Linked DNA regions of Homo sapiens. The protein of the gene in region 1 purifies or fractionates together with the protein of each later gene. This does not show direct contact. Each region holds a gene or a part of one and is shown in the gene's direction. Other genes may lie near its edges.

Evidence for each region.
Region 2: the proteins of NPHP4 (region 1) and NEK4 purify together in Homo sapiens (affinity purification with mass spectrometry, with the first as the bait; one large-scale study listed by BioGRID). This does not show direct contact.
Region 3: the proteins of NPHP4 (region 1) and SEC16A purify together in Homo sapiens (co-immunoprecipitation; one large-scale study listed by IntAct). This does not show direct contact.
Region 4: the proteins of NPHP4 (region 1) and ECT2 purify together in Homo sapiens (affinity purification with mass spectrometry, with the first as the bait; one large-scale study listed by BioGRID). This does not show direct contact.
Region 5: the proteins of NPHP4 (region 1) and PFKP purify together in Homo sapiens (co-immunoprecipitation; one large-scale study listed by IntAct). This does not show direct contact.
Region 6: the proteins of NPHP4 (region 1) and ARHGAP32 purify together in Homo sapiens (co-immunoprecipitation; one large-scale study listed by IntAct). This does not show direct contact.
Region 7: the proteins of NPHP4 (region 1) and AHDC1 purify together in Homo sapiens (co-immunoprecipitation; one large-scale study listed by IntAct). This does not show direct contact.

What each region holds. Positions count from the first base shown.
Region 1 is NC_000001.11:5,870,426-5,873,925, reverse strand, and holds part of NPHP4 (nephrocystin-4), read left to right. Parts: intron 1-590; coding exon 591-674; intron 675-3,500. UniProt on the Homo sapiens protein: Involved in the organization of apical junctions; the function is proposed to implicate a NPHP1-4-8 module. Does not seem to be strictly required for ciliogenesis. Required for building functional cilia.
Region 2 is NC_000003.12:52,746,941-52,750,440, reverse strand, and holds part of NEK4 (serine/threonine-protein kinase Nek4), read left to right. Parts: intron 1-611; coding exon 612-749; intron 750-3,500. UniProt on the Homo sapiens protein: Protein kinase that seems to act exclusively upon threonine residues. Required for normal entry into proliferative arrest after a limited number of cell divisions, also called replicative senescence.
Region 3 is NC_000009.12:136,442,323-136,445,040, reverse strand, and holds part of SEC16A (protein transport protein Sec16A), read left to right. Parts: intron 1-1,140; coding exon 1,141-1,218; intron 1,219-2,718. UniProt on the Homo sapiens protein: Acts as a molecular scaffold that plays a key role in the organization of the endoplasmic reticulum exit sites (ERES), also known as transitional endoplasmic reticulum (tER).
Region 4 is NC_000003.12:172,806,226-172,809,725, forward strand, and holds part of ECT2 (protein ECT2), read left to right. Parts: intron 1-1,544; coding exon 1,545-1,699; intron 1,700-3,500. UniProt on the Homo sapiens protein: Guanine nucleotide exchange factor (GEF) that catalyzes the exchange of GDP for GTP. Promotes guanine nucleotide exchange on the Rho family members of small GTPases, like RHOA, RHOC, RAC1 and CDC42.
Region 5 is NC_000010.11:3,102,048-3,105,547, forward strand, and holds part of PFKP (ATP-dependent 6-phosphofructokinase, platelet type), read left to right. Parts: intron 1-1,731; coding exon 1,732-1,897; intron 1,898-2,561; exon of another isoform or gene 2,562-3,067; coding exon 3,068-3,112; intron 3,113-3,345; coding exon 3,346-3,454; intron 3,455-3,500. UniProt on the Homo sapiens protein: Catalyzes the phosphorylation of D-fructose 6-phosphate to fructose 1,6-bisphosphate by ATP, the first committing step of glycolysis.
Region 6 is NC_000011.10:128,979,326-128,982,825, reverse strand, and holds part of ARHGAP32 (rho GTPase-activating protein 32), read left to right. Parts: intron 1-889; coding exon 890-997; intron 998-1,264; coding exon 1,265-1,410; intron 1,411-2,077; coding exon 2,078-2,273; intron 2,274-2,970; coding exon of another isoform or gene 2,971-2,977; exon of another isoform or gene 2,978-3,500. UniProt on the Homo sapiens protein: GTPase-activating protein (GAP) promoting GTP hydrolysis on RHOA, CDC42 and RAC1 small GTPases. May be involved in the differentiation of neuronal cells during the formation of neurite extensions.
Region 7 is NC_000001.11:27,597,645-27,601,144, reverse strand, and holds part of AHDC1 (transcription factor Gibbin), read left to right. Parts: intron 1-3,500. UniProt on the Homo sapiens protein: Transcription factor required for the proper patterning of the epidermis, which plays a key role in early epithelial morphogenesis. Directly binds promoter and enhancer regions and acts by maintaining local enhancer-promoter chromatin architecture.

The sequences.
Region 1 (3,500 bases):
GCACGCGTGCAGGAGTTGTGCGTGTAGGGGTCTGTGAGATGTGCAGGGAGTGTGTGAGGTGTGTGCAGACATGCAGTTGTGTGTGTGCAGGGAGTATGTGAGGTGTGTGTGCAGGTGTGCACTTGTGTGCAGGGGGTGGTGTGTGAGGTGTGCCTGCAGGGGGTGTGTCATGCCCGGGTGCGTGAGGCCGGCATGGGGTGTGGAGTGTGTGTTTCAGCTTTTGACCTTTTGGGGTCAGCTCTCTAGGGTGGTGGTCATCGCTTAAGGTGGACTTGAGATGTCCCTAGAGGCTCACTCACAGGATGCCATGCTGGCTCTTGGGATGGGCTGTGAGGACTGCAGGTGGGACCTCAGGCCTTTGGCTTCAGGCAGAGCCGGGTTTCCACCTGGGATCTGCTGTTCCCTTTGTTCCTGGCAGCCTCAGCCTTCTCTGGCACAGTGAGGCCGGTTGGTGATGGTTGCTGCCTGGAGAGTCAGTGTGAGAGGAGGCTGGTGGCTCCCAGCTGGGTGGCAGTGGTGTCTCTAAGCACAGGTGCTGGTCGCCTAATGGTGTTGCTTCCTGACCTGCTTGTGCTGTTCGGTTCCTGCAGGCCTCTCCTGGGTTGAGCAACGAGAAGGGCATGGACGCCGTGTCACCTTGGAAGTCCAGCGCAGTGCCCACTAAACACGCCAAGGTAAAGGGGCAACGGAGGACAAACTGATCTCGGGGCTTCCTGGGTATTCCCAGGGCCTGACCCTTGTGTCCTTCTCTCCCCTCCTGGAGGGGAGGGCTGGGGCCAGGTCAGGGCAGGGGTGGCGTGGGCCTGGGAATGGCCTTTTCCGTGTCCTCGCTGGGCAGGGCAGCTCCGTCTGGGCGCTGGCACAGCCTGCATGGTATCTGGTCGGAAATGCCTCCTTGGTGGCCGCCTTCTCACAGCCCAGGGCTCTCCGGGTGTGAAGCCGCAGTTCCCGTGGTGGCTGCCACAGCCTGCGGCCACTCCTTGAGCCTCACGCAGAGCATTCCCTGGTGTGTGAGTGTGTGGTGTGGTTCTTCCTGGAAATAAGACGTAGTCCTTGGTTACGTCCCTTGCTAAGCGAAGGCCGTATAGTAAGGCACCTGCTTCTCAACAGCTGGCTGAGACATTCTCAGGAGGAGCTTGAGACACTGCTGCTTTATGGCAGTTTCTGAAGGTTGTTTTTTATTCGGTAGAAACATGCCTTTTGTAGTAGTTGGGAAGTGAAAAACAAAATTAAAAAGCTTTGGTCTTTCTTACACATTGCCTGGAGGACAGAATTCAGAGTTCAGCGCAGTCCTGTGAGGCTGTGGCGTTCCCGTGGCCCGGGTCTCACTGTGGTTGCAGCCTGGCCCTCTGTGTCCACCGGGCCCCATCACCAGTGAAAACTTGCTTTATTTTATTTAAGTGTGCAGCCACAGCTTTGCCTTGATCTAAGGAATGTATCTGATCTTTATTGAGTGCTCTAGGTTAACGCTTTTTCCTTACATGAGTGGGAAGTCCCAGCCATCGCGTCCTGTTGCCAAAACCGTTGGGAGGAAGGTTTTCCTCTGCTAGCTCAGGTCTGAATGGTAAGGGCTGCAGGTGGATGACCGTAGACAGAGGGACAGCAGCAAAGACGGGCCTTACCGTTGTGAGCCCGTGGCAGCATTGGGAAGTGAGTAGCTTGCCAAATGCCCAGAGGTCGAGGTTTCTGTGCCAATGTAGCACAAAGGGGGCGAGGGCCAGGGCCTCCGTGGGAAGACGGGGACATTCTGTTGTCTCTTTATGCTGTGAGCATGGCCAGTCTGTGACCTTCCTGGAATTTGCAGGATGCTTTCACTTACACTTTCACATAGGGGTTTAATGGCAGCTGCACTTTCAGGTGGCTGTGCACTAGTCAGATAAGGAAAGTTCAGGTAAGATTTCTTTTCACCTTAAAATAATCTTTACGTCAGAAATATGATCTCTTCACATGAATTTGGAGTTTGAAGGGAAATCCTAGACACTGTGTTAGTTTACCCATAATTACTGCAGTGTGTATCTCTGACTGATAAGGACTTTTCTTTTTATCATGACTGCATGCTGTTGTTGCTGCCCCCAGTCAACGCAGACCTCGGCATCGTCTGCTGGGGCTGTAACCACGGGCCTTTCTACCACTGGTGCGTTTGGATCAGGACCCGCTGTCCTGGGGTGCTCCGCCTCTGGAGTTGCTCAGTGGGCAGACCACGTTGTCCATGAAGGCCACCCACAGAGGCCATGCTGGCTGTCACCGTGCTCAGGTGCTGATGGCCTGATGCCATCACCCGTGTCTCCCTCACTCGCATCCAGCTGAGGCTCCTGGCCCACTGCGTGTTCCATCCAGGGTGGAAAATGGTGAAATTGCAGTCCTGTCATTCTTCCTGTGATCTTTCTACAAACAAGGACTTTCCCGATCAGCAGTTTGGTTACCCTAAAATATACTTTGTACTTGAAAGTGAGGATGAATGTTAGAATCATTCCCTTTATCAATTTTCAAATAAATGAGCTGCGTCCTAGCAGCCTCCAGAGACAGTCCATGTTTGCGGCGTCTCATGATGGACACCGAGGCGTTATATTTGTATTTCTCATCCCATGGAGGCACCGCTCTTAGACGCTGGAACTGCCCTCTCTCAGGCCACCGCCATCCTTTTCAAGTTAACTCCTGTGCCTTTTTTAAATAACAAGTAGTTATTTTGAAATAATTTAGAACTTAGGGAAGAGTTACAGGAAGAGTGCAGAGTCCCCACATAGGGTTTTCCCAGACTTCCCGGTCACTAACCTTTGCCATGTTTGCCTCGCCACTCTCTGTTTGTGCATTTTTCTTGAACAATTTGAGAATAAATTATCAGGTAATGCCCTTTACTCCATGACACTTCGAGCTGGGTTATCTTGAAAATAAGGCCACTGTCCTCTGTGGTCAAAGGAGAGCCATGAAAATTAGGGAACTGACGCTCCTCTTCTGTCATCACAGGCCCCATTCACATTCACAAATGTCCCAGCACTTGATAGATGGCCCGTCCAGTGGCCCCCACCAGCCTGCTGCCCATGGAGTCCTTCTGGCGTGGCTGCAGCTGTTGTGAAGTGCACAGGCGGTTATCCTGCAGGGCGTGCCCAGTGGGGCTGGTCTGGTGTTCGTTTCAGTTAGACCCAGGTTATGCACTTGGGGCAGGACCTCCACAGACATTTGCCGTGTCCTCTACGAACATCATACTGTGAGGGACACCGTGTTGCTTTGTCCTGTTACTGGCGATGTTACTGTTTTCATTCAGTTAAGATGACATCTGCCATGCTTTTTTCCTGTAATATCAGGAAATGTCTAGTAATTAGAAAGTCATGAGTAAGTATCTTGTTGGGAGATACTGAGGCCGTTCAAATACCCTATTCTTCATCAGACTTTGACGCACTAGGTGTCAGTGTGCACTGATGACCTGGCCCGAGTTGGTTGGTAGTGGGATGCTTGCCTGCCATGGATTTTCCAATTCCATCATTCCTTCTCTGTTGATTACT
Region 2 (3,500 bases), on another chromosome or scaffold:
AAGTACCTGGGATTGCAAGTGCATACCACCATGCCCAGCTGATTTTAGTATTTTTAGTAGAGATGGGGTTTCACCATGTTGGCCAGACTGGTCTCAAACTCCTGACCTCAAGTGAATCGCCTGCCTTGGCCTCCCAAAGTGCTGGGATTACAGGTGTGAGCCACCACACCCAGCCTATATATATTTTATTCATCCATTCATCAGTTGATGTACATTTGGGTTGTTTCTACTTTTTAGGTACTTTTGTTTTCTAAGAGGAAGGTTATATGTGGATAATGCGGCTATGAACACTTGCATACAAGTTTCTGTGTGGACATATATTTTCAGTTCTGTTGAGTATGTACCTAGGGGTAGAATTCCTGGGTCATATGGTAACTCTATGTATTAAACTTTTTGAGAAACTGCAAAATTGTTTTCCAAAACAACCATATAATTTTATTTCTGCCAGCAATATATGAGGGTTCCAGTTTATCTGCATCCATGCTAACACTCGTTACTGTTCATTGTTTTGAACATAGTCATCCTAGTAGGTATGAAGTGGTTGTGATTTGCATCTCCCTAATGACCAATGATGTTGAACATGTTTTTCTTTTTCTTTTTTTTTGAGACAGAGTCTTGCCCTGTCGCCCAAGCTGGAGTGCAGTGGCACAATCTTGGCTCACAGCAACCTCCGCCTCCTGGGTTCAAGTGATTCTCCAGCCTCAGCCTCCCGAGTAGCTGGGATTACAGGCGTGTGCCACCACGCCCAGGTAATTTTTGCAGTTTTTCTAGCAGAGATGGGGTTTTACCATGTTGGTCAGGCTGGTCACGAACTTCTGACCTCAAGTGATCAGCCTGCCTCGACCTCCCAAAGTGCTGGGATTACAGGTGTGAGCCACCGTGCCCAGCCTTGAGCATCTTTTTATATACTTTGGCCAGTATTTCTCCTTTGGAGAAATAATCTATTTGAATTCTTTATTCTAGATACCAGTTACTTATTAGATACAGCATTTGAAAATATTGTCTCCCGTCCAGGAATGGTGGCTCACGCCTGTAATCCCAGCACTTTGGGAGGCCGAGGCAGGAGGATCCCTTGAGGTCAGGAGTTCAAGACCAGCCTGGCCAACATGGTGAAACCCTGTTTCTACTAAAAATACAAAAATTAGCTGGGCATGGTGGCACGAGCCTGTAATTCCAGCTACTCAGGACGCTGAGGCAGGAGAATCGCTTGAACCTGGGAGGCAGAGGTTGTAGTGAGCTGAGATTGACCCAGTGCACTCCAGCCTGGGTGACAGAGCAAGACTCCATCTCAAAAAAACAAAAAAGGAAAATAAAATATTGTCTCCCATCCTCCCCTCCCCTCCCCTCTTCCCCTTCTGCAAGGCCTTGCTCTGTTGCTAAGGCTGGAGTGCAGTGATGTGATCTCAGCTCACTGCAGCCTCCACCTCCTAGGCTCAAGTGATCCTCCAATCTTACCCTCTCGAGTAGCTGGGACTACAGGCATACGCCAGCACGCCTGGCTAATTTTTTCTATTTTTTGTAGGGACAGGGTGTCCCTATGTTGTCTAGGCTGGTCTCAAACTCCTGGCTGGGCTCAAATCATCCTCCCACCTTGGCCTCCAAAGTGCTGTGATTACGGGTGTGAGCCACCTGTGCCTGGCTGAGCATCTAATTAATATGCATCAGACATAGTCCTAAGTACTTTTAGTGTATTCTTTCAGCTAATCCTGAAATAGTAATACAATATGGCTGTGGGTATTAGATCCATTTTTAAATGATGAAACTGGGCTCAGGGAAATTAAGTTTCTCACATAAGACTGCATCTAATGCCAAGCTCAATGGTCTTTTTATTGTGCTTTTTAGGGTACATCCAAATAACTGATGTTTACTTGGGAAATAAATTTGTATTAAATTGGAATTCATTTAAAACATTGGTTCATTTTCAGAATGGAAAACCTATGAAAAGTTATGAGGAGATTTTTAAAAATAATTGAATCAAACATCAGTAGTTTCAGATTAACCACAATTTAAGTGATTGAATTAAAACAATTATTTTTATTTGGAGGAAGAGAAAAAAATCAGAACATTTGGATAACTGATGTCGGCATTTTGTCTTTGCCTGTCAACACTGCAAATAAACATTCATTTTGAGAAAGACAACTTCTCATTTTCTTTTTAATTTATTAAAAAATTTTGGCCAGGCACAGTGGCTCACACCTGTAATTCCAGCACTTTGGGAGGCCGAGGCGGGCGGATCATGAGGTCAGGAGATCGAGACCATCCTGGCTAACACAGTGAAACGCCGTCTCTACTAAAAATACAAAAAAAAAAAAAATTAGCTGGGCGTGGTGGCGGCCACCTGTAGTCCCAGCTACTCGGGAGGCTGAGGCAGGAGAATGGCGTGAACCCAGGAGGAGGAGCTTGCAGTGAGCCGAGATCGCGCCATTGCACTCCAGCCTGGGCGACAGAGCGAGACTCTGTCTCAAAAAAAATTAAATAAAATAATAATTTTTTTTTTTGAGACACTCTTGCTGTGTCACCCAGGCTAGAGGACAGTGGCATGATCACAGCTCATGGTAGCCTTGACCTCCTGGACTCATACAATCCTCTTACCTCAGCCTCCTGGGTAGCTGTGACTACCTGGCATATCACTACATCTGACTTTTTTTTTTTTTTTAAATGGAGATGGAGGTCTCACTCTGTTGCTCAGACTGGTCTTGAACTCGTGGCCTCCAGTGGTCTTCCTGACTTGGCTTCCCAGAGTGTTGGGATTACAGGTGTGGGCTACCACACTCAGCTTCTTCTCATTTTCATTTACAATTTTAAAAGTAGGCATGGAGCGTTTGGCCATTTGGATGTTCAAAAGACTTCATTATTTTGTGTTTTTGTGTGTGTTTGCTTCATTTTATAATCATTATTTTTTAACTGTTGCATTATGATTTAATTTCATTGCACAAAAATTTGAAATTGCAACTGCTTTTCTTTTCTTTTCTTTTTTTTTTTTTTTGAGATGGAGTCTCACTCTGTTGCCCAGGCTGGAGTGCAGTGGTGCGATCTCAGCTTACTGCAGCCTCCCCCTCCCGGGTTCAAGCAATTCTTCTACCTCAGCCTTCTGAGTAGCTGGGATTACAGGTGCGTGCCACCATGCCCAGCTAATTTTTGTATTTTTGTAGAGACGGGGGTTTCACGATGTTGGCCAGGCTGGTCTCGAACTCCTGACCTTGTGATCTGCCTGCCTCAGCCTCCCAAAGTGCTGGGATTACAGGCACAAGCCACCATGCCTGGCCCGCTTCTTTTGTTTTCTAAGAGGAAGGTTATGTATACCTCTATATTCAATTCTGCATTGTTATATTTGAACCATATTGTGAACTTTACATTGTGATGGGTCATTTTAGAACTTCCATGTAACACTAAATTGCAATATGGAAACCAGTTTTTAAAACTGAGGAAAGTTTTCATGCTAAAAAACAAAAGCCACTTTTTATGGACAACTTACTTTGGATTACAATGTACCAGGTTGC
Region 3 (2,718 bases), on another chromosome or scaffold:
TGGTGGTCCTCACTAACATGAGAGCTGGCGTGTGCCGCCTGTGTTCCTGAGCACGCGGTGCCGGTTCGCCACGTGCGCTTTGCCACTAACCTCGCCCGTTGTCTCCCTCAGCGTCACGTGACCAAGGGTACAGGGTTCCTTTTTTTTTTTTTTTTTTTTTTGAGACGGAGTTTCGCTCTTGTTGCCCAGGCTGGAATGCAATGGTGTGATCTCAGCTCACCGCCACCTCCACCTCCTGGGTTCAAGCCATCCTCCTGTCTCGGCCTTCCTGAGTAGCTGGGATTACAGGCATGAGCCACCACGCCCAGCTAATTTTGTATTTTTAGTAGAGACGGGGTTTCTCCATGTTGGTCAGGCTGGTCCCAACCTCAGGTGATCCGCCCGCCTCAGCCTCCCAAAGTGCTGAGATTACAGCAGTGTTCCTTTAAATGGCCTTAAAGGGGGTTTTGCTGTTCAGTCTCCACATACATGGGGCAACTGGATCGACCCTGAGGTGTCCTAGTCAATGAGTGGGTTCTGTCATTTTGCTCTTTCCAAATTGGTTTTTCCAATGACGGGCCTGGGTCGTGGCCTCGCCGAGTGAGTGTTTCCCCGGTCAGGATGCTCTCCTTTGGAAGGAAGATTGCTCCTTTCTGATCAAGCATGAGAACGTTGGTTTGAGGCCGGGGCGGGTGCAGCAGTGACCTGCGGCCAATGTGGGAGGGAGGTGAACGAACGCTTCATCTTCTGCCTGTCCAGGCACCAGCTGCAGCCGTGGCTCAGCAGAAAGGCTTGCAGCGACCCTTCCGCCTGCAAATGAGAGCCCTGGGCCTCGTGTCATGGCTGGAGCCTTAGAGCTGCAGCCGTGGGCACCTCCTCACCACCTCGCACGCTCGGTGCCACCTCAGTGCTGTGTGCACCTTCCCATTGCATGTTCCGGTGCTTAAAACATTGGCTCTGCACGTTGCTTTGATTTTCACCATTTTTCTCTGAACCATTAAATAACTAAATCCAGTGTTGCAAGAAGTGTCTTGGATCTGCTTCTGTAGCTTATGTAAAAGTACTGTAAATCCCACCCAGAAGCGGTGTCTGTATCTGCACTTGAAGTGACAGCTGCTGTGCAGCGCAGCCCTGCTGAGGTGACTTCTCTGTGCTTCTCAGGCTCCTGGCGACCTCCCTGCTGCAGGGGGCCCTCCCAGCGGGGCCATGCCCTTCTACAACCCTGCTCAGCTGGCACAGGTGAGTGACTCCTACCTTTCCCTACGAGACCCTAACACGCCCACTGACGACCTGACCCTGCTGCTCAGTGATGGCAGCTTTCTGCCCTAGATCCTCTTTTTCTTTCTTTTTAAAAAATATATTTATTTATTTATTGAGACAGGGTCTTGCTCTGTTGCCCAGGCTGGAGTGCAGTGGTGCGATCTCTGATCTCAGCTCACTGCAGCCATAACTTCCTGGGCTGAAGCAATCCTCCTGCCTCAGCCTCCTGAGTAGCTGGGACTACAGGCATGGTCAGCACACCTGGCAAATTTTTTATGTTTTGTAGAGACGGTCTCACCTTGTTGCCTAGGCTGGTCTTGAACTACTAGGCTCAAGCGATCTTCCCACCTCGGCTTCCCAAGGCACTGGGATTACAGGCTTGAGCCACCGTGCCCAGCTTCTCTTTTCTGAATGAAAGTTGCACACCTACTGGGTGGCAGTCCACAGGGCACTGTGAGGAGCCAGGCTGGGCCCTCCCCGGCTGCCATTTCTCCCTTTGTGTGGACACCAGGCCCACCGTGCTCAGCTCTGCGTGGACACCAGGCCCGCCGTGCTCCCGTGTGGAGCTCTGTCGACACGAGGCCCTCCGTGCTCCTGTATTCGCTTTGCCTTTTCCTAGGTTGTAGTTTGTAAAATGTGCTTGGCTTTCTACTTGTGTATCCCTCATTCAGCCCCCAGCTCTGCCACGTCTGCTATTCTGTTCTCCTGGAGCCCGTGGTCTCTGAGCCGAGCGTGATCTCTCCTCCCTTGGCCCGGGCACCCGGGTCTCCCCGGAGTGGGTCCCCCAGCTTTGGAATCCTATGTTGCTGCCTTTCTTAGTTACTCTGTTTGTCTTGGTGACACACATCCTCTGGTAGCTCTTGCTTTTTTTGTATGTTTTTTATTTCTTTTTCCTAATAGCTTCTTGACAGAAAGGTCCCAGGGTGACTTGGGAGATGCCTTTCACGTCTGGAGCTGCCTTTCTCCTCCGGCCTATCTGGCTGGCTGGTAGAATTCTTGGGCCAAAGTCACTTTCTTCAGAACTGCAAGTGGCCTTAGGTTTCCTGCTGCCTGTGGTTGCTGAGACCCCAGGGCCGTTCTGCCTGCAGCCCCTTTCAGGGTCCGTTTCCCTGGGACCTGGAGGGCTTCACCCTCAGCCCCCTTGGGCCTGACTGCATGCCCTTCAGCTGGGGAGTGTTCTAGAATGTTTCCTGTGGTTTCCCTCCCTCAGCCTCGTCTCTCCTCCCCTCTCCCTTGCCTGTGGAGTATAGACTGGCTGCCAGTGTAGGGGAGCTGAGCGGGGTCCAAGGTCTGGGGCCTCTTGGGATTCAGCCCCATTGTCACCCCAGCCTGCCCTCACAGCCTCACACACTCTTGACTGCAGGCTTCCTGGGCTGGGGCCCAGCACTCCTGCCCTGGTCCTCTACAAACGAGGCCGAGGCTCCCAGGACCACTGCCCCCAAGCTGGCCCCTGGCTGTCACCTGCTTTTCAGCATCCAG
Region 4 (3,500 bases), on another chromosome or scaffold:
ACCCCTCATCTTAACACTTTCACTGTTGGCCAACAGTTGCATTTTTAGGGCTATGTTTAAGGTACGGGTCAGGAATAGATGTGGGTGCAATAAATAAACTCAGAGTAACTGGTAGACTTGATATGGAGTCATATGTGTATTAAGGAATGTTTTACTCTAAACTTTGGTAGTGTTACAGAGCAGGTTCTCTGAAGGCCTGAAATTGCTGAAAATTTATACCTACCTACAACAGTGTCATCTGTTTAATTGACACCCAGTGGTGTATGTGCATGGCCATATTTTGGATGTTAGGCATATGTTTTTACAATATTTAGCTCTTTCCATTACTGATTCCTCTAATAATGAAAGGTTTCAGTTTGTGAGAAATTATTCTTTTTTTTTTTTTTTTCCTTTATAAGAAATGATTCTTTCTTTGTTTTTTGTGGGTTTTTTTTTTTTTTTTTTTGAGATGACGTCTTAGTCTGTCACCCAAGCTGGAGTGCAGTGGCGCAAACTTGGTTCACTGCAGCTCCCGCCAGGATTCTCCTGCCTCAGCCTCCTGAGTAGCTGGGATTACAGGCGTGTGTTGTCATGCCTGGCTAATTTTTTTGTATTTTTAGTAGAGACGGGGTTTCACCATGTTGGCCGGGCTGGTCTTGAACTCCTGACCTCAAGTGATCCACCCACTTCGGCCTCCCAAAGTGCTGGGATTACAGGTATGAGCCACTGCACCCCGCCAAGAAATGATTCTTAAAGAAAACTTGAACAGCAACTTCCTGCTCTTTTCACTTAGTTGACAAATTCTGGATTTATTAAAGGTTACATAGTATAGTTGTCCCTTGGTATCCACGGGGGACGGTTCCTGGACCTCCCTTGGTTACCAAAATCTGGGATGCTCAAGTCCTGGATGTAAAATTGCATAGTGTTTGCATGTAACCTATACACATCTTCCTATGTACTGTAAGTCATTTCTAGGTTACTTATAGTACCTACACAGTGTAAATGCTGTGTAAACAGTTGTTATACTATATTGTTTAGGGAATGATGACAAGAATAAAAAGTCTGTACATTTTCAATACAGATACAATCTGTTTTCTACTGTTTTTTTCTACTATTTTCGGTCAGCAGTTGATTGAATCCACAGATGCAGACCCACAGATACGGAAGGCTGACTATATATTTGTTTTAAAAATCTTCATTTTTGGATTTTAATTATGGCAGACTTTGTTTAAAATAGGTTGTATTTTAGCATCTTGATCGTGCAACTTTTGTAACACTTAATATTTTTATCATAGAAAATATTAAATGACATGGATAATACTGTTTACTTAATGTCATTAACTTATCATCATCATTAGTTCCTTACGTGGTATACTATATTGTGTTTTCAGTACTTCAACTTAATATGGTGATGTTCTTTGTCTTATTAAAAATAGGACAAGGAAAGTGGAGAAGTGATAGTTCATTTCATTGGAATTTCATTGCTCTGAGGGAACTAAACTTGCATACATCTGTCATTTTCCAAGGAGTGACACTTAATGTTTATGGTTATTCTGGAACCCTAGATTGCCATAATGCTTTTGCCTTGCTTGTGAGGCCACCAACAGAGCAGGCAAATGTGCTACTCAGTTTCCAGATGACATCAGATGAACTTCCAAAAGAAAACTGGCTAAAGATGCTGTGTCGACATGTAGCTAACACCATTTGTAAAGCAGATGCTGTAAGTTCTTAAAACAGTATTATAATGAAAGTTTAAATTTCATGACAGTGCATTCAGACTAAACCTGTACATTTTTAATGACTTGTTTATTATGAATGGAGAGTTTTAGTTTTGTGTATATTAAAAAAACTGATGTAATAAGTTGTTTTAGAAAATATTTTATATAGTGTAGGTACACAAAATATTATTTGAGTTCTTGGCTTACATAAGGTAGGCCCTCATAGTCTTATAGCCCCTGTGGCTCTGATTCAGTGAAGATTTTGGGACTTCTTGTAATGTACCCTGTGATTTTTCATTGATACTCTTAGACATGGCTAAAAATTAGAGAGTATTTAGAGATGGGGTTTCACTGTGTTGCCCAGGCTGGTCTTGAACTCTTGAGCTCAGGCAGTCTGCCCACCTTGGCCTCCCAAAATGCTAGGATTACAGGCGTGAGCCACCGTGCCTGGCCAAAAAAAAAAAAAAATCTTATTGAAAGCAAGTTGAAAATGAAAGTTGCCAATCTATTTTTCTCATGTGAACCTCTTAAAAATGAAATGCTATCATAAATATATAATTATCATTATACTATACAGATTAAAGTGAAAATAGATGAGAGAATCAAAATAGGGAAGTTAAATGACTTGCCTGAAATCAGGTATCCCTGGATGAAATCCAGGTCCCTAAAAGATAATTTGATTTCTTCCTCTCTATATATGAGAGAGACACATGTGATAGACAGATATAGACCTCTTACTCTTTGCACAAATGACATAGATTGAAGAGAATATATGGATATAATAGATGACCCTTTTCGGTACAATGGTACTGTAACTGAGATTGCATTGGGTGTTTCTGTGGGAATGAAACATGTAATTACAGTTAAGTGTGAAACCTTGGAAGACATTTAGGTTTAATGTGGTTTATAAAGTAAGTATTCATTGATGAAAACCTCCTTCCAAAGTATTTAGAACAATAATCAGACTTTTTGTTTGTGTGTGTGTGTGTTTAGATTTCTATGGACCAATAATATGTTCTTATAAATAAAAAATTGTTGCACAAAAGATTCAGAGAGGGAAATACAATGCTAACAAATACAATAGAATGCTAGCTAGAAAAATGATGGAGACCACTTTTGTTATAAATCTTTCAAAACTGCTCATTGTAAGGTTTTTTTTTGTAGGTATCCATCCACTTTTTCTAGGTATCCATATATAAAATGGTTTTATCTGTAGAAGTTCCTTAATGCAGAAATTACTCCTGCTCTTATCAGAATGTCAGACTAGATAGTTTATAGAGTCCTTTCCAAACTTATAACCCTAATACTGAAATGAAACATTAACAGAAAATTTTTCTTATAATCTATTGAATTACTAGCCACATGATGGCTAATAGTACTAGAACTGAAATATAATAACATATGGAAGAAATTCATAAGTAAAATTAGCCACAAGATGGCAGCAAACGTTTAACTATGTTCTGACTTATCCTTACACTACAAAATTCTTTCAATCTATTGAAATTTTGTTCTTAAGAAATACGTTTGTAAATTCAGGTACTCGGTGACTTTGGTTGAGCCCTTTCCTGCGTTTAAAGTTCTACATATAGTAAATGTTTATAAAGCCCTGAGAATTTTTCCTGTGAAGATAATGTGTGTGTATATCTACACACACACACACACACACACACACACACGCACACACACACGTGAAAGATGTAAAAAGATATAAAAATCTCTGATTCTTTGAATTAGTAATTTTTGTTTTTGGTACCCTGTATATATATAATTTTTTGGTACCCTAAGTAACCTGAGCTTTCTTAA
Region 5 (3,500 bases), on another chromosome or scaffold:
GAGACCATCCCGGCTAAAACGGTGAAACCCCGTCTCTACTAAAAATACAAAAAATTAGCCGGGCGTAGTGGCGGGCGCCTGTAGTCCCAGCTACTTGGGAGGCTGAGGCAGGAGAATGGCGTGAACCCGGGAGGCGGAGCTTGCAGTGAGCCGAGGTCCCGCCACTGCACTCCAGCCTGGGCGACAGAGCGAGACTCTGTCTCAAAAAAAAAAAAAAAAAAAAAAACTGAAGTTGCCACAGGACTTTAATTTATTTAGACGATAAATCTCTGCCAATACATCATCCAGTACCAACTTTGGCACTACTTAGGAAAGCGTTTCTGAGAGCCCTGTGTGTATGTGGTTTATTTTTGTTTTGTTTGATTGTTTGATTTTGTTTGTTTTGAGACAGAGTCTTTCTCCATTGCCCAGGCTGGAGTGCAGTGGCACGATCTCGGCTCACTGCAACATCTGCCTCCTGGGTTCAAGCAATTCTCCTGCCTCAGCCTCCCAAGCAGCTGGGATTACAGGCATGCGCCACCACACCCAGCTTTTTTAAAATTTTTTTATTTATTTTTTATTTTTAGTAGAGATAGGGTTTCGCCATGTTGGCCAGGCTGGTCTCGAACTCCTGACCTCAGGTCATCCACCCGCTTCGGCCTCCCAAAGTGTAGTTTTTCTCCCTTGAAGCGGTTATGTAATTTCAGTGCAATATTAAATATGACCAGGGAAGCATATTGTTTAACAGCAACTCGATGAGAGGCGGCATTGAGGCAAAGCAGCTGTCCCCAGGTTTGTGAACATCCTCGTAGGGGATGGAGAAGGCTGCCCGTTGGAAGCAGCCAGGCCTCACGGTTCCCGCTTGTCCACCTCATCCCGTCTGGCACAGCACAGTGAGTGCACAGACCGGGACAGTGGCCACAAGTCCGGGCCCAAGCTTGCCCCTGGCCCTTCAGTGGTTCCGATTCCCTTTATGCAGAACTGCCCAGCCCAGGTCTGTCCTGAGTGCGAGGCAGATGCTCACCCACGATCCAGCTTCCCACAGATGCATGAGAAATCAGTGTGAAGATGGCCTAGTGTCTTAGATTCTTAATTCCGTAATTGTAACGTATCCTGTTCAAAGCCGTGTCATTCTCTGAAGCTGTTGCCAGGAAGTACTGAGATGTTTGTTTACCGATTGCAAATGTGGATCCTTTCTTTTATTTTTCTAATCCACTGCTCTTGTCTAAGTGCCAGGTGACAGAGTCCATTGTGTGTAACTGCTGCCAGCTTTGTCTGGCTTCTCTTTCCTTAACTATGCAGAATCCGGTTGCCTTGAGTTCGGAGAAAATAAAGAATCGGCCAGGGCAGTGGCTCACACCTATAATCCCAGCACTTTGGAAGGCCAAGGCAGAAGGACCACTTGAGCCCAGGAATTTAAGACCCGCCTGGGCAACATAGAGTGTGGGTCTACAAAAAAAATTAAGAAATCAGCCAGGCATAGTTCTAGCTTCTCAGGAGACTGAGGCAGAAGGATCGCCTGAGCCCAGGAGTTCAAGGCTGCAGTGGGCTATGATGGTGCCACTGCACTCCAGCCTGGTCAACAGTGAGACCCTGTCTCAGAAAAATGATAATAAAGAAATGATACCAATAACAAAGAGTTTAGAATGGTTGATTTCTCTACCCATGGCCATTCTGCCTCACCCCTAGTGGGGCACCCCCCGAACGCGCCATGGTTACGGCGATGAGACGTGCTGTTTGCTCCCCGCGCAGGCCAGATCGATAAGGAGGCCGTGCAGAAGTACGCCTACCTCAACGTGGTGGGCATGGTGGGCTCCATCGACAATGATTTCTGCGGCACCGACATGACCATCGGCACGGACTCCGCCCTGCACAGGATCATCGAGGTCGTCGACGCCATCATGACCACGGCCCAGAGGTAAAGCGCTCAGAGGAACCGGCGGGAGGCCAGTGGGGCCCGACGTGTGCCCAGCTCAGACGTTACCACGGGCTCTAGAACATTCTGCAGATTGGGTGTCCTGGTGCTGGTCTCGTAACTTGACTTTTAGGAGCTATTGCCAGAACATTGTTCTCTGGTCTACTTTTCATTTTTAATTTTAAAACATTCCTTGTTTTTAACCTGATGATAGAAAACAGTTTATTAGAATTTGGAAGGAAGAAACAAAGTAATTATCCTCTAAATGTCCTACCCAAACATCTCCAGAAGGAGTGGCAAGCAGGAAACTGTTGTGTGGATTTTCCACACTACTCATTAGAAACGCAGCCAGCGATGTCCTGCCCTGTGTAACCTACGGATTCACGAAGTGTCGTGGGGGCCACAGCGTTTGATCCGAGGTGCTCTAGGCTCAGCAGGTTATCACTAAAGACTGTGGGGCGCACCGTACAATTTCTGAAGCAATTTGCATGAAAACCATGTGGAATGGTAAATAGAATAAGTGTCTCCCCTTTAAGGACGAGGTGCTCGAGACTGGGAGAGTGCCCGAATCCAGTCCCCAGCATGGCGCCTCCCAGTCCTCTGTGTGCGTGTCCTGTTCCCAGTGACGCCTCACTGGACATTCTCAGTGCGTGGGCGTGAACCCCACAGTTGGTGGAAAATCACCGAGTTGGAAGGCTGCTCGGAGCAGTTGGATTTTTCCATTCCCTGGGAAGACCCACAGTCTCTGGGCATTAAGCACTTAGTGAGTCTGGCACTCACTTGTTTCCGTGGGAGAGATCCAGCCGTGGCTGTCGACAGCAGCTGCCGACTGTGCCCAATAGAGAAGGTATCTGGGAAAGAGCCCAGCACGGGGCCGGGGAGTGTGAGTGTGTCCTGGCACAGGCAGGCAGAAGGTGTCCAACGTGCAACTGGAGAGCGCAGAGGTGGCTCAAGTCCCCTTCCTCGCAGGAGTCTGGAAGGCTACTGCATAGCGTTTGCCTTAGTAGAAAATGGACCATTTTTGAAGCCTAGGTCCCTGCAGGCCTCCTGGCTAACTCGGCTGTCAAAGCCCCTTTTCTCTGCTTTCTGAGCTGTTTCCAGGACTGAGTGGGTGCTCCCTCTGTTTCTCTGCTTTCTGAGCTGTGTCCGGGGCTCCCTCTGTTTCTCTTCCAGCCACCAGAGGACCTTCGTTCTGGAGGTGATGGGACGACACTGTGGGTACGTACCTGCGGTGGGTCCGGTGGACGCGGTTCAGGTGGGGGACCCTCAGCATCATCTCCCTGAGGCTGCACCCCACATCCTGAATGCTCCCGTGGAAAGTCCTGAAGGGGCCGGCATCCCGCTTCATACCTGGCGTTAGGTCTGCACGTCTGTCGCTGAGCGGGGTGCCTGGGCTGCCCTCGTGGGAAGGATCCTTCTGGGGTGTTGATGCTGTTGCCTTGTCCACATAGGTACCTGGCCCTGGTGAGTGCCTTGGCCTGCGGTGCGGACTGGGTGTTCCTTCCAGAATCTCCACCAGAGGAAGGCTGGGAGGAGCAGATGTGTGTCAAACTCTCGGAGGTAATGCGGGTCCCGTGGCCGTTGATAGCGGGCGATGCTGGCTGCA
Region 6 (3,500 bases), on another chromosome or scaffold:
TCAACCTTCCTGGGCTGAAGCAATCCTCCTGCCTCAGCCTCCCGAGTAGCTGGCACTACAGGCATGCACCACCACACCCAGCTAATTGTTTTTACACTTTTTGTAGAGATGGGGTTTCACTGTGTTGCCCAGGCTGGTCTTGAACTCTCGAGTTCAAGTGATCTGCCTGCCTCAGCCTCCCAGACTGCTGAGATTACAGGCAATAGCCATCACACCCAGCCCGTTGTCTTTAGTAGTTTTACTCTGGGCACTATTAGGTAGGACGCTTTGAGACATGCTAGGTGATAGATAATACCTCTGTGTGTGCATGCGCACAGACACACACACACACACACACACACACACACACACGGCACTTACCTGGTTTAACTTACATTTAAGGTGATCATGTCTTGTTTTCAAAAGTACTCTTCCCTATTGTTTAATCACAATATATGTGGAATTGTTTAAGTAAAGCAAATTTTAAGTAGTCAAGATAAACCAGAATATGAGGATTTGAATTAGGCTCTTTATTTCAAAAGCATATCCTTTGCTCAAATATTCTCCCCTTGATGCCTATTGGAATTTTTCTTGTAACTGTTTTAAGGCTTTTGAGACATTACTGTTTTCTTTCATAGAAGTGTTGAAATCCTTTCCTGTTAGTATGTCTGCTGCAAGTAGAATGGCATAACTTCAAAATATTATTTGTTCCAGAAACTAGCTTTGGTGGAAGATTCACTTCTAATAGTAATATTTCAACCTGTTAAGCAGGAAAAAAAAGTTCTCTTGGGTTTGTATGGTCCCTTTCTTCATTTTGCTATTGCAAACTTAGGAATTAATTAGCAGGCTTTTATGTTCTATACTGCTGCATCATGTTTCTTTCTGTTAATATGTTGTATTTTATTTCCAGAACACTGGAGTTCCTGATGAGACACTTGTCTCTTCTAGCTGACTATTGTTCCATCACAAATATGCATGCAAAAAATCTAGCAATTGTTTGGGCTCCAAACCTGTTAAGGTAATTTGCATTTCACTTATTAATTTTAGTAGAACTAATCCTAAATAAAAGGCTGATTCATCAGTGTTCTTTAAGGAAACTTTTAAAAGATTAAACAAATCTGTTCTTTTTATTTGCATCTCCCTAAAACAGGCAACTGGGCCTTAGCTAAGGGACAGTAAAAGTATGATTTCTTCCTCTGTTTGTCTGAGATTTACACGTTTAAAAAAAGAGGCCCTTGACGACTGCTATCTTTACAACTCTGTGATGAAAATGTTTACCTCACAGATCAAAACAGATAGAATCTGCCTGCTTCAGTGGAACAGCAGCTTTCATGGAAGTGAGGATTCAGTCTGTGGTTGTTGAGTTCATCCTGAATCACGTTGATGTGCTGTTCAGCGGCAGAATCAGCATGGCCATGCAAGAGGGGGCAGGTACGGCTCCGATGGCCCTTCCTACCAGGAGGGTGTGTCTCAGCTTCCAGAGGAGTAGCAAACCATGCATTTCTTATTGCAACAACAAAAACGTGTCACTGGTATAAGGCAGCTAATAATGTATGGCTGCTTACCAAAATGCACAATTTGACAGTTATTTTGTGTGTATATAGTGAATACTACATATGAGACCTATTGTGATCTAAGTTCATGACACATTAAAAAACTTGTCGTTCATTATTGATGTGTATTAAAGTATAAAGTGGAACAGAAGAAGAAAAATTGCTTCCAAAACTAAAAATATCTGAGTGATTGATCACCTTTCCTCATATCTTTTAAGAAAGGAAAACAGTTATTAAAGAGTTTTATATGTGTGTATGTGTGCCACTGGTGTATCCCCTTCAGTTTTTTATTTAATATAAAGCTTTTCTCATATCTTTTAAGAAAGGAAAACAGTTATTAAAGGGTTTTATATGTATGTATGTGTGCCACTGGTATGTCCCCTTCAGTTTTTCATTTAATATAAAGCACTATGGTTTTTGCTATTTAACATACTTGAAGAAAATTTGAAACAACAGATAGGTAGATAGATGGAGAGATAGATACTAACAAATTGAATACACTCACGTAGTTGACTCTCTTCATCAGCTTCCTTTTCTTTTTGAAGCTTCTCTATCAAGGCCCAAGTCCCTCCTGGTATCCTCTCCATCCACCAAACTGCTGACATTGGAAGAGGCCCAGGCACGAACACAAGCTCAGGTCAATTCTCCAATTGTGACGGAAAATAAATATATCGAAGTAGGAGAAGGACCTGCTGCACTTCAGGGGAAATTTCATACCATAATTGAGTTCCCACTTGAAAGGTAAAATTTGTTAAATCCTATTTTGGGATATGATTTTCATAGCTATGTCCTATTATTTTCTTTTAGTTTGCTTTTAATTTTGTATTTTAGTATTACTCTATTGAATTCTAGGCTAGTCCCAGAGAAACCTGTTTATTCGAATATGGATGATACTTACCGCTTCATGGGGAATGATGCAAATGATTCTTGCTTTACAATGTCATGTAATTTTATAAAAGAAGAACATCAGTGGTATAGGGAAAATTGTTTGGAAAAATAAGGATATACTGTCACTATATGGGTTGATTTTGCTCTCTGAACTATGTTGTTTATAAAGTTGTTTAGAAATAAGCTGTGTTGGAAGAGTTTGTTCAGAAAGTCAGGAATGGACAGTGACTTGTTTGACATTGGTTTCACATTAAGGTTAGAAGAGATTAATAGTGTGGTCTCCCAGCCAACAGCATCAGCATCACCTGGTGATAATTGCTAGAAGTGCACATTGTGCAGTCGTCCAGTCACACCCCAGACCCGCTGAATCAGAAACCCTGGGCGTGGGACCCAGCAACTGGTCATTCATCTAACTTTCCAGGTGATTCTGATGTCTGCTAGGACTTGAGAACCACTGCAGCAGTTCACTCTTTCAATGTCCCTTCCAGCTCTGAAATTCTATTACTCTAAAGAAATGATAATAACATGGTTTCTGTATCTTCTTTACTAGGTTATAGTAGGAAGACTAATGTATGTAAAAGTTATTTTTGATGTCTCTGCTACTCCTTTGGCTATTACACATGAATGTAAGGATTTTGATTCTCTGGATTGGGTAGTACTAATATAACTTTAGAATTTGTTCTTCCCGTATTTTAGTATACTCCTCTAACTTCCTTTCACTTCCTGTGACTAAAAACATTCTATCAGCAAAAAGTTGGAACATACTCTTACTTTGTCATCCTGAGTTTGTCTTTAGCATCTTGATTTTATATTCTAGTTCCATAATTTACTCAAAGATTTATTTATGGAGTAGTAGTTAAGAGAGTAGATACTGGGATGTAGATTGGCCTGGGTTCCAATTCTGACTCCATCATTTAATAGTTTTATAATGTTAAAGAAGTTATTTGAACTTCTTAGTGTCATAATTTCCTTGGCTGCAAAATGAGAATAATAGTACTTACCTCATGTGGTTGTATCTGATTTAAAGGAGATATTACATATAAGGCAGGTAGCACAGTGCCTGGCATTCAGTATATGTTT
Region 7 (3,500 bases), about 22 Mb from region 1:
AGTTTTTAATGTGATCTATGGCTGAGGTAGTGATGGAAGGAGCTGTTGGGCTTGGAGAAATTTGGTGTCATAAAGAAAAAGAGCTTGCTGTTTATTATTGTTGCTGGGCTGGGGGGTCTGGAACAGGGTCGTGGGGGCAGGGAGCCCCTACCACCCTCAGGCGCTGTGGGACAGCATAGCTTCTCAGTTTCAATGCGTGAGGGTTCTGGGGTTATTTTGCATTGCTCCCCAGCCCTTGATGGGGCCTTTGGGGAAGGGGTTTGGGAGCTGGGGGACTTTGTTACCCCCACTGCATGGGCTTAGATCTGGGCTGGGAGGCTTCTGGAACCCCCTGCTGAGCTAAGTGGAGGTGTACAGTAGGGAAGTTGGACTTGGATTCAAAAGGTTAAAAGATGGGGTCTCCACCTGATTGCTGTGGTTGTGCTGGAGGCTTGAGGGGCAGACTGCCCCTGGCAGAAGACATTTGGGTAGGGGGAGCTGTTCTGGACTGGCAGAGCCCCAGAGGGACATTGTTGTTCTCCAATCAGCCTGGAGCACTGACTTTGAACCACTCCCACCTCTATGCTTCTGTTCCCCATTGGACAGGGGCTTCCTCCAGGCAAACCTGATCTCCCTCATTTCCCCCTTCCCCTCTTCTGTCCCACCCCCAGGTCAATTTCAATTTTTTTTGTTTTTTTTTTTTGGTTTGTAGAACACAGAGCTCTGTGTCTCATGCCAGCCACCCAAGACCAGGGGGTGCCATGCCTGTGTACCAGATGCCCAGGCCCTTCTGGTCTGGCTTGGTGAGGTCAAGCAGACTCACTATTATGGGATGGAGCCCAGCTCTGTCTCTGGGTCCCCTGGGTCTCTTGGGACAGAGTGGGGAGGCGGAAGCCAGGATGGAGTGGAGCTGGGGACTATGGGAGGAAGCAAGGGTAACATTGTTGCTAATGCCTGCAGATGGGCCCCCCCCAGGGAGGGGGGCGGGGGAGCGACCCACAACCACATGCATGGTGAAGAGAGAGAAAGATGGAGACCAAAGCCAGTGATGAGAGTGAAAGAGAAAACAGGCAAGAAAATCTGGAATTACAGCCCCTGGAGGTGGGGGCCGGGGACCAAGAAGGCCTAGGAATATACCACTCCCCTCCCTGGAGCCAGAGAGGAGGCAGCCCTGAGGTCCTCTCACCCAAGATCAGATTCTGGGGTTGTTTTTGGAGGAGAGACAAGCAGATGTTTGGGAAGAGGGAGGAGGACAGGTGGGAGAGAGAGAGAGACTCTCACAGGAGGAGGGAGAATGGGGAGACAGATTCCAGGGTTTTCAACAAATGTTTCAGGTCCCAGGGTAGCATCTCCCTTCTGCCCTCCCCAAATGCCTGGAACAGAGCTGAGCTTTTCTTGGGACCCGGGGGGGCGTGGCCTGTGGCAGGTACTGCACCCTACAGGTTGTCAGGTGCTCTGTGCCAAAAGACACCCAGGTTATAAAAGCGGGAAACATTAGGGTCCCAGAGGTGCCAGGAGCATCATCCAGTTGGACGCCCCCCACTTGTTTGACGAGAGAAAGCCAAGTCTAGGGAGAGGAGCCACTTGCTCAGGGTCACAGATACCTTTGGCAAGACCAGGCTGGGACCTGGGCTGTTTGCACTCCACCTCACTGTAGTTAGAGAATTGGAACAGCTGCAGGGGGCCTCCTGGGAGTGGAGGGGGCCGGAGCCTGGGGAGAGAAGCAGGCAGGCACCCTTGTGGCCAGAGCCCCCCCAGGGGAGGGGGAGGCGCCGCTGCTGCCGGGAGAGAGAGGGAGGGAGGCGAGAGAGGAGGGGAAACAGTGAGTCAGGCTTCCAAGAGCTGAGGATGAGAGAGCCAGAGCTGGGAGGGAGAGGGCAGGGAGGGCTGCTCAGAAGGGAGGAGAGGGAGGGGGCCCAACCAGGGGCAAGGAGAGCTCGAGAGGGAGGGAGCCAGCCCCTGGCCCTGGCCCTGGCCCTGGCCCTGTGGTAGGGCTGTGTGGAGGGTGTAGCCAATATGGACTTTACCCATGGTAGGTCAGGAAGGAGCCTGATTCTGCCCCTGCAGCATCTCTTTCTTCTTTCCTCATTTATGATCCTACCCCAGGGTCTCAGGAGGGATGACTGTGTCCTCCCATCCCTTCCTCTTGGGCCTCAGTTTCCCCATCCATTGTGGGATTTGGACTGTGAGCTATTGGAGAGGGAGTGGGGGACAGGGACAGAGTAGCCAGGGAGAATGTTAAGGGATGCTGTCTGAAGCTGCTGGCTTTGTGACGGGGGCGCTGTCACCAGTGCAAGGTAGGGTGCTGGTCTCTGCGTTCATGTCATGACGGTGGATGCTGGTGTTGGGGGGCTTGGGCAGGCGGTGAGCACTGGGATGCACTGTATATATTTGTGTGTGAGGTGCTAGATTCAGGATGGCCAGTGCCTAGACAGGGCCAGGGTCACTACATGGCCAAAACCAGCCTCCACTGTTGTGGGGGTGACACTGGTGTGATCCCCCCACGTCCCTATGGGTAGATGGAGGTGGGAATGGCCCCAGTGCAGTTGGCAAGAACAACCCCTCATGCCTGGAACTGGGACCAGAGCAGGAGGGGTCCCCAGGGACTGCCTGGAAAGGAGGAGGGAAGGAGCCCCCCTCCAGCCCAGCTGACAGGAAGCCCTGGCTCCCAGCCCCTCCTTCGCCCAAGGCCTGGCCTCTCCTGGCCCCTCCCTCCTGGATCCCAGCATCTCTTCCATTGGCCAGGGGATGAGGAAGGTGGGCATCAAGGATCCCTCTCCTGCAGGGCCTGGCTCCGGGGGCAATGGTGAAGTGAGAGTAAAGTGAGGCCCTGCCTCCCTCCAGCCCCCTTCCAGCCCCCTCCACCACACACACAAACCCAACTGCAATGAGGCCCTGTTTTCTCTCCTCTTCTGCTCTGGGGTCCTTGGCCTGGGAGCCCAGGGGAGGGGCTGCTTCTGCAGCTGGCTGGCCCCGAACTCCCAATTCAGCCCAGCTGCCACTGAAGCTTCCAGAAGCTGCAGCTCTGCACCCCCTCCCCACCCCCTGAGCCAGGAGAGGCCTTGCTGACCTGGGGGAGGGTGCCTTGGGGAGCGAGTGGGCACCCTTGGAAGGACTAACACAGACAGCCAGACAGATGGGTGGTGAAACAGATGGACAGAGACACCCACACACAGACAGACGGAGAGAGACGGACAGATGGACTGGGACAGGGAGAGACGGACAGACAGAGGTGCTGGCAGAGAGAGGAGGAGGCAGAAAAATGGAAGACAGAGACTTAGAGAAAAGAAAGGAGACAGAGTGACTGAGATGGAGAAGGAGAGAGATGGGGAGGCTGAGAGACAGGAAGAGATAAAGAAAGGGGGAAACCCAGACAGACAGAGAGAGGGAGGGAGAGGGAGGGAGAAGACTGCAGGCTGCAAACCACAAACAGGGATTTGATGAGAATCTGGAAGGTGTTTTCTCCCTCTTCCCTCCCCAAACCCCCAGGCCAGCCAAGTCTCCATTCCTTCCACCCCCGG